Homo sapiens: one gene and its partners. The protein of the gene in region 1 interacts with the protein of each later gene in a pairwise test. Each region holds a gene or a part of one and is shown on either strand. Other genes may lie near its edges.

Evidence for each region.
Region 2: the proteins of GOLGA8F (region 1) and PDE4DIP interact in binary tests that used the Homo sapiens proteins (3 or more experiments, as listed by UniProt).
Region 3: the proteins of GOLGA8F (region 1) and ZNF471 interact in a two-hybrid assay, tested with the Homo sapiens proteins (one large-scale study listed by BioGRID).
Region 4: the proteins of GOLGA8F (region 1) and KCTD6 interact in binary tests that used the Homo sapiens proteins (3 or more experiments, as listed by UniProt).
Region 5: the proteins of GOLGA8F (region 1) and SSX2IP interact in binary tests that used the Homo sapiens proteins (3 or more experiments, as listed by UniProt).

The regions. Positions count from the first base shown.
Region 1 is NC_000015.10:28,384,977-28,388,939, reverse strand, and holds part of GOLGA8F (golgin subfamily A member 8F), read right to left. Parts: intron 3,816-3,963; coding exon 3,559-3,815; intron 3,292-3,558; coding exon 3,223-3,291; intron 1,852-3,222; coding exon 1,776-1,851; intron 1,339-1,775; coding exon 1,247-1,338; intron 673-1,246; coding exon 572-672; intron 490-571; coding exon 389-489; intron 300-388; coding exon 147-299; intron 62-146; coding exon 1-61.
Region 2 is NC_000001.11:149,004,580-149,008,542, forward strand, and holds part of PDE4DIP (myomegalin), read left to right. Parts: intron 1-329; coding exon 330-858; intron 859-2,621; coding exon 2,622-2,857; intron 2,858-3,864; coding exon 3,865-3,916; intron 3,917-3,963. UniProt on the Homo sapiens protein: Functions as an anchor sequestering components of the cAMP-dependent pathway to Golgi and/or centrosomes.
Region 3 is NC_000019.10:56,514,045-56,518,007, reverse strand, and holds part of ZNF471 (zinc finger protein 471), read right to left. Parts: intron 1,734-3,963; coding exon 1,607-1,733; intron 1-1,606. UniProt on the Homo sapiens protein: May be involved in transcriptional regulation.
Region 4 is NC_000003.12:58,494,777-58,498,739, forward strand, and holds part of KCTD6 (BTB/POZ domain-containing protein KCTD6), read left to right. Parts: intron 1-3,588; exon of another isoform or gene 3,589-3,936; 5' UTR 3,937-3,963. UniProt on the Homo sapiens protein: Probable substrate-specific adapter of a BCR (BTB-CUL3-RBX1) E3 ubiquitin-protein ligase complex mediating the ubiquitination and subsequent proteasomal degradation of target proteins.
Region 5 is NC_000001.11:84,652,355-84,656,317, forward strand, and holds part of SSX2IP (afadin- and alpha-actinin-binding protein), read right to left. Parts: intron 3,652-3,963; coding exon 3,478-3,651; intron 3,235-3,477; coding exon of another isoform or gene 3,111-3,234; intron 1-3,110. UniProt on the Homo sapiens protein: Belongs to an adhesion system, which plays a role in the organization of homotypic, interneuronal and heterotypic cell-cell adherens junctions (AJs).

The DNA of each region.
Region 1 (3,963 bases):
CCCTCCCTGGCCTCTCCTTGCACAGGCTCCACGCTGTCAGTGAGGCTCACCTCACAAAGATCTTTGGAGAGAGGGAGGCGGGGATCTGAGCTCAGTGAGAGCCCCCCTGCTCCTGCCTGCCCACCCCGCCTGAGGGCTCTACTCACCACCATGCTTGTGGGCAGCCCCAAGCTCCTGGGGGGCTGGGGCTCCTGGACTGGGCTCATGAGCAGGGTTCTGGGCAGTCACCAAGAATTTGCTGTGTCCCTTGTAGTCGCCACCAGCTGCAACACCATCTCCTGCAGCTCCAGCAGCTTCACCTGGAGGGAGGGGTGCTCAGCTGTCACGCTGCTGCCAGCGCTCACCGTCACAGCCACCCCCACCCCCGCAGAGATGTTGCACACTCTACCTTCATCTCCTCCCTGTCCAGGGCCAGCCTGATGGTGTCCTCCTCCCGGTGCTGCATCTTTGGCACTGCCCCCTGGCTTTGTTATAGGGTGATAAACTTTCCTGCGGGAGGACAGGGCTCAGACGCTGGGGCCCCTCCAACAGCCCTGCAGCTCCCCCTGCCATGCCCTGGCCTCCCACTCACTGATGGCATCTCTCTCTGTAGTACTGGAAGAATCCAAGTTCTTCTTTCTCCACCAGCTCACTCAGGTCTGCCTTCTCCTCCAGGTGGTCCATAAAGCCGCTCTGGAGCCAAAATAATGGGGTCACATCTCGCCAGCGACCTGCCCTCAGGTGGCATTTTCAAGTCATGGAGAAGGCGGAGGTGAGTTCCGGCATGGGCCAGCTTCTCCGTGACTTCCTGCAGGGCCCGGTGGGTCTCCCCACTCACAGACTCGCCCCCAGGCCCTGGGGCTCCAGGGCCTCTGGCTGCCTCTGGCTCCTTCTGGGCCGAGGCCACCGGGTGAGCCAGGCGCTGGCAGCACACCCTCTGCTCTTTCACCTGCTCTTGTAACTGTGCCTGCTTCTCCTGGGCACTAGCTCCAGCGGACTTGAAAAATGCCACCTGAGGGCAAGATGTGAGCATTCTTGCAGGGGCATACACAGAACAAATGGGGCAGAGAGGTGGAGCGCAGCCCCTTCCCTTGGGGCCCCAGAGACTGCACATGTTGGTCACAGGTGAAATGGTGTCTGACCACTGGCTCCCAGAAGGGGTGAGGGTCCAGAGAAATCAGAAGGCAGGGAAACGAAGAGCATAAAGGGGTCTTGGAGGGACCACAGAGGAAGGAGGCAAAATGGGTTCAGGTGGAGTCAGGCTCACCATGGCCTCCCTGCTCTCCAGGTCCTGTGGGATGCTAGGAATGGGCCGAGGTGCCTCCTCCCCCTCACTGTCCAGATGTCCTCCTCCATCTCCTGGGGGTGGGGGTGGTGGCCAGAGGGGTCCTCAGACAACTCAACAAGGGAAGTATTGTGGGCCCACCTCTGCCTCCACCCTCATTGTGTAACCCTGAGCCAGGCCCTCCCCAGAGAGGAATGAGCTGCTGTTATTTATTTTTACTTTGAAGAACCAAGATCTTGCTATACTGCCCAGGCACATTCCCACTACTGGTCGGTGCGGGAGTTCTGACCTGCTCCCTTTCTGACCTCGGCCAGTTCAGCCATCCTTAGGCAACTTGGTGGCCCCCCGCTCACAGGAGGTCACCATATTGATGCTGAACTTAGTGCAGGCACCCGGTTAGTATAATGACCAGCTGTTCTAAAGGTCTCTTCCAACTCCTCAATCCTATGCTGCTAGCAGTCCCCCCTTCCTCCTGGGGCTCTCTCCTCTTCCTCTGAGCGGTCTCCCGTACCTTCCCCAGGGAGAGCCATGAGGCTCAACTGGGCCGTTAGCTGCTGTTTCTGCTGGCTCGCAGCTTCCAGACGCTCCTAAGGGGCCAGGAAAGAGTGAGAAGGCACAGAGTTTGCCAGGTCGTCCCCCTCACAGCCCCATCCTCGGCAGCTCCCTCCCCTGGGTCTCCTGCAACTTTTGGCAGGCCATCTCGGCCACCGCTTTGCCCCAAGCTTCCTGCTGCTGCAACTGGTTCATTAGCTGGGTCTGCTGCAGTCACTGCCTGTACAGCGCCTCCTTCTCACAGGTCAGCTGCTGATAGGCGGCCACCTGCTGCTGATAGGTGGCCACGTACTGCTGCAGGTGACCCAGGTAATGGTCTGGCTGCTGCTGCAGACTCTGAGCCTCTTGGCTCTTCAGCTCCACCTGCAGGAAGACCCTGGGTGTGAGGGCACGTGGTGGCTGGTTTGCAGATTCTGGGCCCATTAATAGGGTAGCGAGGGCACTGTGGGGCTCTGTCGCCTGCCCAGGCCCCTGGCCCCTTACTTCAGGCCTAAGTGACTGCCTTGCTTTCCTAGAACCCCATGCCTCCTTCCCCAGCCTCAAATCTCATGTCCTCTTCCCACCATTTCAACTGTAGGCCACAGAATGGTAGAAAAGTATGGGAGCCAACCACCATCTGCTAAATGTGCTACAGGCCTAATGCTTCCCATGTATTATCTCATTTAATCCTCAGCACCTCTGTAAGGAAAATGCTAACTTCCTTTTGAAGTTAAAGAAACAGAGACTTAGAGATGCGAAGTACTTGAATGGTGACCAGTGGAACTGAGGCTGGAATCCAGTTTTAATCTAAGGAGTCTTTTTGTTTTGTTTTGAGACAGAGTGTCACTCTGTGGCCCAGGCAGGAGTGCAGTGGTGCAATCTCAGCTCACTGCAACCTCCACCTCCTGGGCTCAAGCAATTCTCGTGCCTCAGCCTCCTGAGTAGGTGGGATTACAGGCATGCGCCACCACCATGCCCCACTAATTTTTCTTTCTTTTTTTGTTTTTTGTTTTTGTAATTTTAGTAGAGATGAGGTTTTACCATGTTGGCCAGGCTGATCTCAAACTCCAAACCTCAAGTGATTCTCCTGCCTCAGCCTCCCAAAGTGTTGGCACTATAGGCGTAAGCCACCGCATCTGGCATAAGAAGACTGTTATACCACTCTGTCTCTTCCCCTGTGATTGGGGGGGCTCCATGTCTCTAGCTGGAATGATGATGTCCAGACCTGGGAGGAGCCCAGGGCTACCCACCTCTAAAATCAGAGGGCAGGAAGCAAGAAACAGCCACAGGACTGCCCTGGAGGGTGCTGGGGTCACCTGCCCCCGGGCTGGAGCTACCGCTGGACTGGCACCTCCCCTCCCCAGAGGCTGGTGCCCACCCACCTCCCAGACCTTCTTGGATGGGGTGGAGGTTACCGTCTCCTTCACCTTGCCTAGCTTCTCCTGCAGCTCCTTTACTTGCTGCTCCAACTGTAGTACGCTCTTGTTCTCATTGTTCTGGACAGAGAGAAGCAATCAGCAGCCACCCACTGCAGCTGGAGACCCCAGAACTTGGTGACTGCCTCCCATGGCACCGGGAAGGGTGGAGGCAGGTTAGAAAAATCATCCCCTGTCTCCCACAGCCACCAGAGCAGGGCTCTGGCTCACAGGTGCCTTTAGGAGTAACATTTCACTTGAGGGCTACACTGCCCCATTTTATAGGTGGGGAAACAAAGGCCTGGAGGGCTAGGGAGGAGGGCAGGCTCCCCAGCTGGGGCAACGCACCAGCTCCTTGAAGCTGTTCTGTGGCTCGGCCAGCTGCTGAAGCCTCTCCTCCTGCTCTGGAAGCCTCTCCTGCTGCTCCTGAAGCCTCTCCTCCTGCTCCCGAAGCCTCTCCTTTTGCCCCTCATTCAGGAGACTTATGCGCTGATTGTACTCCACCTGGGCCTGGAGCTCTCCTGCCACTCTCTCTAGTTCCTTCCTCAGGTGCTGCAGCTCCACCTCAGAGGGCACTGCTGGGGGCTCCGGGGGCAGAGGTTCAGCTGAGAAAGGAAGCAGACAATAAGAGCCTCTGGATTCCAAAAAAAAAAAAAAAAAAAGAAAAGAAAAGAAAAAACCCTCCTCTTGGCGCACAGCTCCTCTCCGGCTCCTCAAACTTAGCCTCACTGCTAATGATTCCTCGCACCCAGA
Region 2 (3,963 bases), on another chromosome or scaffold:
AATGAACACAGGACATTGGAGGATTTGAATTCTGGCTCTGCCATGTGCTAGTTTGAGTGATCTAGAACAAGCTAGTTTACCACCTCTCTTTAAGTTTTGGTTTCCCAGTCAGTAAAATAGAAAGTGATGAAACCTAACTTGTAGGTATAAGGAAGATAAGAAATATTGTATTTGAATGCCTAGTACAGTGTCAGGGTTGAATAAAGTACTACTTCAACTTTTTCCCTAGTAATTATTGTCCTCATGACCAAACCTGCCTCCTCTCAAAGGCAGTGGCCACAACAGCACATCCAACTTTTATTTAGGAAGACATCTTTGTCTTTTTTCAGAGTGTGAGGAGCACAACAGCCTCAAGGAAATGGTCCTGATGGAGGGGCTGTGCTCTGAGCAGGGACGCCGGGGCTCAACACTGGCTAGTTCCTCTGAGAGGAAGCCCTTGGAGAACCAGCTAGGGAAGCAGGAAGAGTTCCGGGTATATGGAAAGTCAGAAAACATCTTGGTCCTACGAAAGGACATCAAAGATCTGAAGGCCCAGCTGCAGAATGCCAACAAGGTCATTCAAAACCTCAAGAGCCGGGTCCGGTCCCTCTCAGTTACAAGTGATTATTCGTCTAGTCTGGAAAGACCCCGGAAGCTGAGAGCTGTTGGCACCTTGGAGGGGTCTTCACCTCATAGTGTCCCTGATGAGGATGAGGGGTGGCTGTCTGATGGCACTGGGGCTTTCTACTCTCCAGGGCTTCAGGCCAAAAAGGACCTGGAGAGTCTCATCCAGAGAGTATCCCAGCTGGAGGCCCAGCTCCCAAAAAATGGACTAGAAGAGAAGCTGGCTGAGGAGCTGAGATCAGCCTCGTGGCCTGGGTAAGGATGGCACTGTTTGGGTACTTTCTTGATTGAAAATGTGTAAGTTCATGCTTGGCGTAGGGTAGCTCAGGCAGTTGGAAGAAAGAACATGTCTGGGTATTCACAGGGACACTGATTTAAATGGTAGATACAGGTCTGCAGAAAAGACAGGTAGGCAACCAGGAGGGCATAGGATGATGTTCCAGTATCTGGGAGATACCGGGTCTCAGGGATTTCCTCTTAGGGATATATTAGTAAAGATGGTATAGTATAGTAGTAATACTGGAATCAGACTACCTACCTCTGGTGCTTACTACCCATGCAACCTTCTTAACCTTTCTGAGCCTTTGTCCTTACCTATTAAATGAGGATGATAAGAGAACCCATCTCAAAGGGTGGATATTAGGTTTAAATGAATTAATACAACTGCTGACCAGGCGTGGTGGCTCATGCCTGTAATCCCAGCACTTTGGGAGGCCAAGGCAGGTAGAACACCTGAGGTCAGGTGTTCGAGACCAGCCTACCCAACACGGTGAAACCCCATCTCTACTAAAAATACAAAGATTAGCTGGGCATGGTGGTGCACACCTGTAATCCCAGCTATTCGGGAGGCTGAGGCAGGAGAATCGCTTGAACCTGGCAGGTGGAGGTTGCAGTGAGCCGAGATGGCACCACTGCACTCCAGCCTGGGTGACAGAGCAAGAGTCTGTCTCGGAAAAAAAAAAAAAAGAATTAATACAAGTGCTTAGAATAGTGCCTAGCATATGTTAAGCTCTCAATGCTATTTGCCATAGTTATAAGTGTTATTGATACTTAGTGTTGAAAACACAGACATTCATCTTGGTGTGTCCTGGTTATCTATTGCTAAGTAATAACCACTCTAAAACTTAGTGACTTCAAACAACACTTTATTATGCTTCATGGTTCTATGGTTTGACTGGGCTCAGCTGGGTGGTTCTCACTTAGGGTCTCTTGTTTTGGGTCCCATCAGTTGATGGTATGAGCGTTTAAATGATGGCCATCATTGCAAAATGTAGTCAGCCACAGTATCGTAACATAGAAGAAATTCAGGCATCAGGTGGTGGTTAAAACAGAAGGCATGAAAGGTTCTATCTAGACTTAGGATGAAATGATGCTAATTATTCATTGAGTAACTGCTGTGAATCTATGTGATACTGGTGCTGTAAGGGATGTAAAATGCAGAACTATGTTTATTCTCACAGACCTTATGATTTATCTAGGGACATATAATTAACACATGTATAACAGTTGAAGAACAGTGACATACTAAATTTTTTTTTGATACGGAGTCACTCTGTCATCCAGGCTGGAGTGCAGTGGTGCCGTCTTGGCTAACTACAACCTCCACCTCCTAGGTTCAAGCAATTCTCCTGCCTCAGCCTCCCGAGTAGCTGGGATTACAGGCATGTGCCACTATGCTCAGCTCATTTTTTTTGTATTTTTAGTAGAGGCAGGGTTTCACCATATTGGCGAGGCTGGTCTCAAACTCCTGACCTTGTGATCTGCCTGCCTTGGCCTCCCAAAGTGCTGGGATTACAGGCGTGAGCTACCACGCCCGGCCCGTACTAAGTTTTTTAATGCAATACTTTATCAGGGTAGAATTTACTCTTAAATACCTCCTATGGCTTATGTGCCAGAATTCAGCTTGGGGGAGTTCCTTAGAGATGTTCTCATAGAAATCTCTACAGAAGCCCCCATAACTCCATAAGTTAGCTTCCACTCTTTCCATACTTACACTTTCCTCTTCTGTCCTGCATTAGGAAATATGATTCCCTGATTCAGGATCAGGCCCGGGAACTGTCTTACCTACGGCAAAAAATACGAGAAGGGAGAGGTATTTGTTATCTTATCACCCGGCATGCAAAAGATACAGTAAAATCTTTTGAGGATCTCCTAAGGAGCAATGACATTGACTACTACCTGGGACAGAGCTTCCGGGAGCAACTCGCCCAGGGAAGCCAGCTGACAGAGAGGCTCACCAGCAAACTCAGCACCAGTAAGTTGGCCACAGGGCTTTGGAATACTCTCAGTCACCCCCACAGTTCCAGCCCCTGGTGGCCACCACATCTCCACTGCAACTTTTTATCCTAAGGTCCTGTTTCTATTTCATTTCCTGGGGCTAATACAGGATCAAGACTGCTCAGTGGGGAGCATGGAGAGGAAAACACAGGGCTGGAGATGCCATGGTTACAACTATAGAAACTTCACCACTAATGGAATGTGACCTGTGGGGCAGGGGCAGCATCTCTCTGATGCTAAGAGGGAGTAGGGGACATGAGATGGAAGGGCTTTGTTATAGGAGGAAGAGCCCTGAACCAAGAACTACAAGACTCAAGCTCTGGCCTGGATGCTGCCACCAACTCGCTAAATGCCTTATCCTTGTGGTGTCTCCATTTATGGCATGGTAATGTGCATGCAGGTACTCCACATATGGATAAAGCGCCATGCTCTTTTATACATGGTTTAGGCACTGGCTGCAGTAGTTCAAGGGCTACATTGGTTATTATTGGGGTCTTCTACTCAGAATTTCCAGCGACTATCCAAGGGAGTAAAGTAGGATCAGACTTGGGAGCCACCCAGCCCACCACCTGGTGGCAGATGCAGAGGTGGGGCAGGGCTTCTTGTCATCTCCTCAGAGACCAGTGCAGGTTCTGCATGAAAGCTGTGGTGGGGCATATGCATTGGGGAGCTAGTCTGCAGCAGGACATGGAGGCTGGAGTGTCCCGCAGGGCAGCTGGGCAAGGGCCTCATGATTAATGGAACAAAAGACATTATAAATGTTTTACCCTGATTTAGGGCAGAGGAAGTCATCATGGTGACCGGCAGGTCAGGGACAGTGGGGTCACTTCTCTAGAGACACAAGCTGAGGTATCCCAGAATAACTGTTCTGGATGCACACATGAAATGCTCACTACTCTGTCTCCAGATAGGCTCCTGCATTTGTAATGCGGGAAGTGGGACCAGCCTAATTTCTTATCGTCTCTTTCTAAATTTGGTTTACAGAGGATCATAAAAGTGAGAAAGATCAAGCTGGACTTGAGCCACTGGCCCTCAGGTAATTCAGAGGAGAATCTGGGAAAGAGATTGGGACCGAGGCCCAAA
Region 3 (3,963 bases), on another chromosome or scaffold:
GCAATAACGAAGAAGAAATAGCACATGATTTAAAAACAGCTATTATTATATCAATACTTAAGAATATAAAGGCAAATATGCTTGAAATAAATGTACACACAGGATATCTCAGAAACGAAACTACAAGAAGAACCAAATAAATATTATATAATTTAACAAATATAACATCTGAAACTTAAAAATTCACTAGATGCACCTAACCAAACATTGAGGGTAAGGATAGAGTCAGGGAATTTGACTATGAATCAACAGAAATTATCCAATCTGAGCTGGGCACAGTGGCTTACGCCTGTAATCCCAGCACTTTGGGATGCTGAGGTAGGCAGATCACCTGAGGTCAGGAGTTCAAGACCAACCTGAGCAACATAGTGAAACCCTGTCTCTATTAAAAATACAAAAATTAGGTCAGGCACAGTAGCTCACACCTGTAATCCCAGCACTTTGGGAGGCTGAGGCGGGCAGATCACGAGGTCAGGAGATCAAGACCATCCTGGCTAACATGGTGAAACCCCATCTCTACTAAAAAAATACAAAAAAATTAGCCAGGTGTGGTGGCAGGCACCTGTAGTCCCAGCTACTCAGGAGGCTGAGGCAGGAGAATGGCGTGAACCCAGGAGGCGGAGCTTGCAGTGAGCCGAGATGGTGCCACTGCACTCCAGCCTGGGCGACAGAGCGAGACTCCGTTTCAAAAAAAAAAAAAAAAAAAAAATTAGCTGGGTGTGGTGGTGGGTGCCTGTAATCCAGCTACTTGGGAGGCTAAGGCAGGAGAATTGCTTGAACCTGGGAGGTGGTGGGCCAAGATTGCGCCACTGCCCTCCAGCCTGGGCAACAGAGCAAGACTGTCTCAAAAAAAAAAAAAAAAAGAGAGCGAGAGAAAAATTAAAATTAAAACAGAACAAAGATTTTTAAAAGTGAAACAATCCTTAGTTACCTAGGGCACAATATCAAACAATCTAACATAGGTGTAACTGAAGTCCAAAACAGAAAAGAACAGAAAAAAAGATTTGAAGAAATAATGGCTAAAAATCTCCCAAATTTGGTTTAAGATATAAATTTAGTTTCAAGAAGCTCAATGAACCACAAGCATAATCAAAAGGGCTTCTGGAGAACAGAAAGCTAATCTAGCCAATGGGGTGGCCCCAGTGCTTAGAAGAAAGGTCCATAGGAATTTCCCTAACAGTAAGTGATCTGAAGCCATTTTCAGTTTGTGTCTTCAGTTTGTTACTTAATACAAAGATACAGATTTTAAAAGTGATATTCTGAATTTATAGTAATCTAGCTATATATTCTTTGTGAACCTTGTTGTTGTCTAGTGGTGATAGTAATTCTGTAGGAGAGAGAGAACAAGGAAACTGAGGAGACTGGTGAGATTCACATTGTGTCTTGTGTTCCCAATTGCCTTAAGGGTGTATGCATGGAATATTTGATATTCTCCAAATTCACTAACTCTAAATCTCAAGTTTTCTTCAGTCCCTCAATATCCTCTGTTTCTCAGATTCCATTCCCAAATTCCATTCTGACCTACATATAATAAAAGCAAATTTAATAATATATAGACAAAAAAGTTCCTTAAAGGTAGATTATGCAGGAGGGAAAAGATCCTCACCAAGTGATACCAGGCTCTGATAGTTCTCCAACATCATACTCCTGTATAAACGCTTCTGAGCAGGGTTCATCCATTGCCATTCTTCCTGGGAAAAATCTATTGCCACATCCTTGAATGTCACTAAGTCCTGAAGTGACAAATATATTCTTAACCAACCAATGCTCGTGTCCAAAGATAACTCTGAGTTGATCCAAAGTGTCTCTACTTTAGGTGAGAAATAACTCATAGAAGAGAAAAAACATAAATAGGAAGATCCAAGCCAAAACAGTACTTATGGAAGTGTTTAACTGCATTGGGTACAATGGGGCCAATCGATTCCGAACATAGGGAAATATGGGTGCATAACTACAAGGCAGTGAAGACGGCTTCAAGGGAGAACACACACCTGTGTTGAATCTTCAAAAGCATAAAAGGAATATCTAAACTGATATTTTTCAAATGATACTCCATGGGATCCAAGTTTTATTGGCAGGGGCTGGAGAAAGGCATTGAACTAATGTAGCTGATTTTTTTTTCTTAAATAATAAAAACATGTTTAAGAATGCAATTTTCTTAGGTCTGCATCAGTGAATACTGTGTTTTCCACCCACGGTTGGTAGAACCCACAGTTGCAGAACAAAATGAAATTGAAGTTATAACTTTTAAATATTCTTAGAGAAAAATTAATGACCAGTTATAATCACCAGCAGCTTGTAAGAAATTTTAAAAGTTATTGTGGGCATTTTTCACCTTCAGATTTACTTCCGTTGAAAATGAATATCTTCTTAATCTTAGTGCCTGATTTGCAAAGTTATCAAAAATATAACTAAAGACAAGGTTATGAGCACATTTTAATTCGCTTTAAACAGTAATCTCTGTATCATGTCTTTGTTCTGAAGATTAGTGTTTAAAAGCACATTTTAAACAGATATTCAATGTACGGGACTTTAGAAGATATACATACCTTTAGGAAAATGTTTAATATATTTTTCATATAAAAGAATTACAAAATTGTTTACATTTCTCTGTGTACTCACAGTTTTACTGAATTCTAGTTTTCACCTTCTAGTGAGTTGAGAACTAAGAACCATCATTTCACATATTCTTATAAAATGAGATGTATTCCTCAATGCAAGCAAAAGGTGTTCACATTCTTTCCAATATTTAGGATAATTTTGCTGACTATTAAGGACAGAGGAGCTTTGGCTGTTCCCACAGAAAAAACTGCTTTTGATCCTGGTACTTATGGTTAGTAATCTAGTATATATACTACCAGAATTTTACCAATATCTATAGAATAACTTTACATATATGTATGCATGTATATGTAGTGATTTTTTTTAACTGATAATGCTATAACCAATGAAGTAAATCCCAATGGATAGCATCTGAAGAGCTTGTAATTCTTTTTTCTTTTTAAGGACACAACCATTTATTGCAAGGTATCAGATAATTTATGAAATTTCCAGGAGGATTAATACTGAGTAAGTGACTAAATTAAGACTAAATAAATAAATGAGGAAAATAGGCAAATATCTCATTTAGAAGATCTTTCAAATGATTTATGTTTGCCCTTAAGGAGGTAGAACATAATTTCCCACTTCTGGAGTGTAGGTTGTGCATAGTGACTTCCTTACAAACAGTACAGTATGGAAAAGTGAGGGAAAAAAGAGTAACCTTATTATAGAGAAACCTGACAAACACTACCTCAAAGTTAATTAAGTTAACATCTATTAACATCAACAGTAATAAATCATGTTTACAGTGTGCACCCCTGATTTGATGTGATGAAAAAGGAACTTTACCTCTGCAGTCTTCCTCCCCAAAACACAGTACCCTAGTCTAATCATGAAAAAGCATCAGATTTGAGACATTCTACAAAATAACTGAGTATTCCTCAAAGCTGACAAGGTCATCGATAAGCAAAGTATGAAAAACTATCACAGCTAAGAGGAGTCTTAGGAAATATGACTATTAAATGTAATGTAATTTCCTAGATAGAATCCTGGCACAGAAAAAAAACATTAGATAAAACCTAAGAAAGCCTGGCCGGGTGCAGTGGCTTACACTTATAATCCCAGCACTTTGGGAGGCCAAGGCCGGTAGATCACTTGAGGCCAGGAGCTCAAGACCAGCCTACATAGCATGGCAAGGACAACATGGCAAAACCCCACCTCTACCAAAAATACAAAAATTGGCTGTGCATGGTGGTGCATGCCTATAATCCCAGCTACTCGAGTGGCCGAGGCACGAGAATTGCTTGAACTGGAGAGGCAGGTTATAGTGTGCTATGATCCTGCCACTGCACTCCAGCCTGGGTGACAGAGTGAAACTCTGTCTCAAAAAAAAAAAAAAAAAAAAAATTAAAAAGTTAAAAC
Region 4 (3,963 bases), on another chromosome or scaffold:
GCTACTTTAGAAAATTAATACTTCCTTTTAAGGTTTCTATAAATTCTTCAGTATGTGTTTTCTTAAGCTTAATTACCTGCTAACATGACACTGTCAGAATTTATACATTAGTCACAATAACCTTTGAAGCTTAAACATGGTTGAATTTTCAGCACTGCTTTATATTCTTTGGGGAGTGGGCAGTGTTGTTTTCACAAGAATTTTATTTGCATCAAAGGTTACATCTTTTCAGGTGAACTGATTTTTCAGGGTCAGAGGCTTCTTTGAATTTTATAGCTGTTTGTGCTCGGTTGCATTTGCTGTCTTTCAAAACCATCTTTAGTTTTAGTAAGGAAAGTCACTATAAAGGAAAAATTTTTTATTGTTACCATTCCTGGTAGATTTTCTGAAATATTAGATATTTCTTTGCTTTCATCAAGTAAAATAGGCCTATTTGATACCCATTTCAAGATCTTCCTTCTGCTGCCTGTCTTGTGGTCATTTAACTTCTCATTAAGCCCTCCACTGGAGACTGTGCCAGAAGGGAGAGAAGATGAAAAGCAAATGAATCATTTTCTAATTGTTAGTAGCTCTGGAAAATGATTCAGTAGAAGAGATTGAAACTATTCTGGAAATTCTTTGGGATTGTATTTCATTCATCTGCATCGTTTCAGAGATGTTCCTAATGGTCGTCAATTCAGAATTCAGAAGCCGATCATTATCCAGCTATTGGATAACAGGGAATTTTTCATGCTTTTTTTTTGTTTGTTTGTTTCTTGCTGTATTTAAGCATCTCCACAGAAGATATTTAGAAGCAGGTAGAGATAAAATTTAAACTAATCAATACTGTTTTTTCCCTTTGAACTCTTTAATGCACAATTTGATTTCTTTAGACAGTTTACTCATTGTTATTGGAAGTGACTAATAGTAACTTTGCTTCAATTTATTTTGATGTATCTTATACACAAGTATAGGAAGGCTTTTGGGTGGTTTTTAAGAAACATGGGCTGTAGATTCCCATAATTGCTTTCCTGAATTATTAAGCGTGAGCTTTCATTACATCTTTGTACCGGAACTTTTGCTTTTGCTGTGGAACAGATTCAGGGACATCGTCTAATTTTTTTTTTTTTTTTTTTAGATAACTGCTCAAGAAGTTACCTTGTTTTGATTTAGCAGTAAAAAAGAAAAAAAGGGTTAATAGTGGACAGACTTTTCGTTAACGGCTGCAACATTGATGTCTGCTTTTTTCCTTGTCTTTGATCTTCTGTTTCTCATTTAATCATTTGGATATTCACGGATTGGAGTTCTTTATGTCACTACAGACAGGACAGCAACCGTTATTCACACTAGTTGAATGGGTTCCTGCCTTTTTTTGGTGGGGGGGCCTCAGGAGAATTTTTACAAACCCATTATGACTGTTTAGTTAGGCTGAGTTACTGTAAAATTTGTAAATAAAACCCTACTGGATGGATAGGGTTAATAGATGGCTATAGAGAGTTTAAAGTTAAGCTTTTTCAATTTCTTGTCTCTTGGATTCTGTTCTTTCAATTTCTACCCTAGGAGGGGATTTATGGAAAAATCTAGACTAAGAGTCAGAACATGCAAGTTCTTATCTAGTTACTTCCCAGCTGTGGCGCCCTCAGCTAGTCACTTAATCTGCCTTGTTTCTCTGTTTTGCATCTTTAAGATGAGGATAGTAATCCCTGCTCGGCCTACTGGTATCAGGAATGTTGTAGGGGGAAAAAAAGTCTTTCATGCCCCTGTCTATTAAATTGTTTCTTCCTTCTAGAATCCCTTCTCAGGTTGTCCGAATTTTCTTTCAAGGATTCAACTGAATGGGCTCTTCCCAGAAGTCCTCTATTTCCCATTTGAAATCTTGCTTTTCCCCTCTCACGGGCCTCTGCTGGTCCATCTGTTATACAGCACTTTGAATTCTGTTCTGTACTTCAGTCATTGCATGTTGCCTTCCATTATAGATGGAAAGCTCCATGAGGGCAAAGATTGTCTTTTTCCTCTTTCTGTGTGTCCGCATTGCACATAGGCACCCCCTCCACTCCATAGGTGACCCACAATAATTGTTGGCTGAATGAATGATTATTGAGGCTGTCAGAATGAATACTTTGGGTGATGGGAAAATGCCAAAGATGAGCATCTTACCAGAACTTTTGGATGAGTGGCCTTTTAAATTGCTCAGTTACTAATCTGTTGTTATCAGTAACTGAATCAGATCCTGGCAAGACAAATTGGCAAAGCCCATTTCTTGGTCCTGTTTACTTCGGATACTATTTGTGAAGCAAGTCAGAGGAATGAAAGACTGTCATAACAGTCTTGAATTTGACATTTGTTCCATTTCTCACCCCATAGCATGTGGAGGCCTGTCTATATCCAACTGCTGAGTGTAAAGAATAAAAACTGACTGCCCCATAGTCTGGTCCACATTTTAGTTGTGTGCTTTGAAGGATTTGCAAGGTAGAGAAATAGATGCTTCAGGCTCTGATTTCAGCCCATGCTGTGCTATGCAAATGTTCTCTACATGCCTGAGTGACCTTTTGAGAAAGAGCCTTTGTGATCTTCTGTAGCTAGGGCTTGTTCTGGGAATTCTGTGCCAGATTCCTCTAAAAGTGGGAAAAGTGAATCTGTTAAAGGACCACGTAAAAAAGCCAGTGCTTTTCCTGGATGAATACCAATAAGTCCATGTTTCTTACCATGTCTTGCCAGAGCTTTAGAAATTTGCTCTGCAGTTTGCTTTACAGGTTGATTTGGGATTGAAGTGTGTGAGAGGGAACTGACTAAGGCAGTTCAGTAGCTGGGAAACTGTTTGTTTAAATGCTTTTGAATTGTAGATAAAAATAAATTCACATTGGCATCATTAGTATCTGAGCATTTCTCAGTGTCTTAAGGCTGGCTCTCCATGAGTGCTGGCTGATTGACTCTCATCTATATCGGTAAGGTTCTTTTTGCCCCAAATTGTGCTCTTTAACACTTCGGCATTTAAATCACTTTCTATTTGTTTTAATTGTACAAAGAGAAATACATCATTATTTAAAAGCATCATCTTTTTTTTTTATATTGTAAGATAAATACCATTCTGATGTATTTCTCTTGGAAAGGGATGCTGGTATCCTGGGAGGTTTATGATTTTTGATGTTTTTACTCAGGTGATTGGCTTGTATAGCTGAAATGCTGATGAAAAGGAGTTTTCCCTTCTCCCTTTTTCTTTTCTTTTCTTTTTTTTTTTTTTTTTGAGATGGAGTCTCGCACTGTTGCAGGGGCTGGTGTGCAGTGGCACAGTCTCGGCTCACTGCAACCTCCGCCTCTCGGGTTCAAGTGATGCTCCTGCCTCAGCCTCCTGAATAGCTAGGATTACAGGTGCCCACCACCACGCCCAGCTAATTTTTTGTATTTTTAGTAGAGATGGGGTTTCACTATGTTGGGCAGTCTGGTCTTGAACTCCTGACCTGGTGATCCTCCTGCCTCAGCCTCCCAAAGTGCTGGGATTATAGGCATGAGCCACTGCGCCCAGCCTGTCCCTTTTTCTTAAATGACCTTTTTGGTGAGGACCATTATAGGTTTGTACCAGGATAAGGTTGTAGAGTTAATCATAATATTCTCTTATATAAATTCTAAAAATTGATGTTCTAAGAAGAGAGGTAGAATTTGAATGACTGGGTTACTTCCTAGACTCTTCCTCCTTCTCTTAAGTACAGTATAGTTCTTTCTCTGAAAATCTTCAGTCTCTTAGTTCCAGATGGGTTCTCTATGGTAAGAATACAGGACATGTAGAAGGCCCTAGGGGAATGCTTTCTTCCCCAGATCTTTGCCCTGTAGTAGGTTTCAGCTGAGCAAGGACGAGTAGTTTTTCTGGTGTTTGGCCTCCTCTGTTGGGTGGAAAAAGACTTTCTTCTCTATTTTCCTAGTTATATATGCTATCATATGTCTGTTTTTCTCCTCTTGAAGTTTCCCTGAAACCTGGGCTCTTGAAGA
Region 5 (3,963 bases), on another chromosome or scaffold:
TGACGCTGAAGTGAGCCGAGATAGCACCACTGCACTCTAGCCTAGGTGACACGGCAAGACCGTATCTCCAAAAAAAAAAAAAAAAAAAAAAAAAAAGCCGGGCGCAGTGGCTCATGCCTGTAATCCCAGCACTTTGGGAGGACAAGGTGGGCGGATCACAAGGTCAGGAGTTTGAGACCAGTCTGGCCAACATGGTGAAACCCCATCTCTACTAAAAATACAAAATTTAGCCGGGCATGGTGGCGTGCGCCTGTAGTCCCAGCTACTCAGGAGGCTGAGGCAGGAGAATCACATGAACCCAGGAGGCAGGGGTTGCAGTGAGCTGAGATCGCACCCCTGCACTCCTGCCTGGGCAACAAAGCAAGGCTCCATCTCAAAAAGCAAAACACGGCCGGGCACGGTGGCTCACGCCTGTAATCCCAGCACTTCGGGAGGCCAAGGCGGGTGGATCACGAGGTCAGGAGATCGAGACCATCCTGGCTAACATGGTGAAACCCCGTCTCTACTAAAAATACAAAACAAAAAAAATTAGCCGGGTGTGGTGGCGGGTGCCTGTAGTCCCAGCTACTCAGGAGGCTGAGGCAGGAGAATGGCATGAACCCAGGAGGCAGAGCCTGCAGTGAGCCAAGATCACGCCACTGCACTCTAGCCTGGGCAACAGAGTGAGACTCCATCTCAAAAAAAAACAAAAACAAAAAAACTAAGAAAAATTTCACTTACGAAAAAATTATGTTTAAAAAATAGAAATTCATCTGTTTCACCTAATAAACCAACCATCACTGTCTTCATATCAATTTTAAGTTCAAATAAACAATGCAAAAAATGGAACAGAATATTAGCATAACTTTTGAACATACAAAACATTATAAAGTTACAAACAAAAGAAAAATAATCTATATTGTAAATTAGTCACTTGAAAAACAGGACCTATGACTTCATCAAGCATTTCTCTCATCCTCTAGCCATCTACCAGTACTGGTAGCCACCACCACTAAACCACAAGAGGGCATAGGCAAATTATGTCAAACCTCCCCCTTCTGAATAGCTGATGAATCCTAAACTAAATTCTCCATCAGCCCTCAGGTCTTGCATGCCTCCCTCCCATCCCTCACTATGCCCACTGTCCCAGTGACCAGACGGAGAAAAATTCTCTTGCAGGGAAAGGCACCTGGCAACTGGGAGCAATATGCAAAGTAGCAAGAGTAATTACTCTCTTGGAGTAATGTGGGGAATAAGGGCTTGGAAACAGGTAGGAGACAATGCTGGTCAAGTGTTGTTCCCTGAAGATAGCTACTGATGAAACAGACGTTCACACTGTGAACTGAGGAAATCCACGTCAGCTACTGAAAACAAGCAACACACAGTCTTTCATTCATAAATATTGATACAGAATCACGCATCACCAAACATTGAGAAAACTAATATAGAAAAAAGGTCAAGATAAATAGAAAACTGACCATGGATAAGAGATAATTCAACAGATGAAAGAAATCTTTTTTAAAAATGTAACAAATATTATCAGATTAATAAACATCTGTAAAATACCATCATGCTATATAAAGAAAAGCAAAAATTAAGGACATTAGAAAAATTTAAAGATAAATTCTGAAGCAAAGACTCAGTGGCTAAAGCAAATAATAAAACTGACCCTGAAAGGCCAGTTTCGTGATCTCTAAGATAAAGGTAAGAGAATATCCCAGAATTGAGAACAAAAGTCAACCTGTAGATATATATTCAGAAGGCCAAATGTGTGTCTAACAAAAGTTCCAGAACACAGAGAAGTCAAAGAAGGAAAAAATAAAGAAGAAAATTTCCCTAAATTAAAGAAATACAGAATCTTTAGGATGAAAGGAACTCTCTAGAAGTATCCTGGTAAAATTTCCAAACTTTAAGAAAATACCAAAGCTTCCACAGAGGGAGATAGAAAACAAAACACAGTTATCTACAAAGTAACACAGGTATATTACAATCAGGCTTCTCATCAGTAAAACTAAACACTAGGAGAAATGGAATAATTCAAAGTTTTGAAGGAAAAAAAACTGGAATCTAAATTCTATACACAGCCAAACCAATCAAGTATGAATATATTTTTGACTATTCCAGAATTCAGAATGTTTACAGCTCATGCACTATTTATAAAAAAAAAATTACTCAAGAATTAGTAATTACTCAATTACTAATATAGCGAATTGAACAGAAACCCAAGAAAGACAGTAACATGAGATATGAGCAACATGGCAGCTGAAATCTGATTCAGGAAATCACAAAGGAAGCTACAGAGAAAAAGAATTCACTAGATAGTGATATATCTCTCTGGGTGGCAAAGTCTTAATAATACAGAATATTTTCTGTGTCCAAACATATTTGGTTATAGAATAACATTTACATAATTGTAGTATTATCAATTTTCTTTCCTGGTTTTCCAACTTTTAAGTCTCAAGTTTAGACAAAGTACTTATACCTGGATTGTATTAGAGGACAAACTATGAATGTGATAACAATGAAAAATAATATCACAAAAATTGCAAAGTAGTACAGCAAGAGAGGTAGAACAAGAGTAACAACAAGAAAGTCCTCAGCTTTCACTGCAGGGATGAACTGATACTGACTGAAGTTGAACAAACATGAAATGGAAGCTTTTTATTATTTCCTTAAAGCAAAAAAAAGGCAAGCAGACGAACAAGAGGAACAATATTATGAAGACATGAGATGTGAATGAGGAAGGGTGTAGGTAGGAGGTACAATAAGGACACAGAATTCCTTATCTTTCATAGCAGGGAATCAATGAACTGATAAACAAGAAAACTTGAAATACATTAAAAGTTAAAATAGTACTTCCTAGAAGAATTTCCAACAGATACTTTTTAACAGCAGTTACCTCTAAGGAATGAAACTGAGGATGAGAAAGGAGGATACTTTCTTACTTTGTAGCTTTTTTTAATGAGTTTTGTTGATTTTTTTTTTTTAACCTTATTCAGACATTACTGCTACAATTTTTGAAGGGGGAATATGTAGATGACACATTGCTAAGTAAAAAAAGCAAGCTGTAGAGCGTATATATAACAATGATGGACTGGGGAGAAGAGAACTTAATTTTTTATTATACTTCCTTTTTAAACAGCAAATATAGTCTTGGTTGCACTGTCTTCTGACACCACACCTACTGACCGTGGATGAATGATGGATACCCAAAAGAGATTTCTTGTGTAAAACACTTAGCAGGAGAAAGCCAATCTGAAAGCAGTAATAAATGCTTATAGCGTTTTTTTTTCTTAAGTTCAATTCTCAAATCTGGTAAGGGGAAATGATCCCATTCTATATGCTCAGCCTCCCTCTCATTTCAAATTATTTGTGAGATCACCAGTAAATATTTTAGAAAATAAGTAAATAGCAAGAAAAAAAGGAGACCTTAGAAGCATTCTACTGAGGCCCACCCACCCCCAGTATTTTCAAAAGCACTACAATTGTTTAAAATACCTCCAATCCCAGGCGAATAGCGGCTTCTGTAAAGCTTCGTCTCTCCCTCTCAAAATTCTTTTTCTGCTCTTTAAAAAGGGACCATTCTTCTTTGAGACGTTCCTTTTCTTCCAACAAATAACAGTCTCGTAATAGTGAAGTGGTATCATCATCATATGCAGTAGCGAGCTGCTGCTATTAAAATTTAAAACATAGTAAGTTCCTGAGGGACCTTGCGACACTCCAACGAGTTGAAATGAAAGCAAGGGAAGGCCAGTCAAACTTCAGGGCAGGAATAGAAATTATTAAGAATCAAAAAGTCAAATGAGAATTCTCATTTCCCGAAACCTACTACCCCAACTAGCAAAGTATGGACTATTTAAGGAGTGGTACACAATGTATCTGTTAGCAGGGAACACAGACTAGAAATCTGTCAAATACCAGGGCCTTATGAAATAAAGGAATACAAATCTGGTAAGGTTCAGCACAATTCTGGCTTTTCATGGA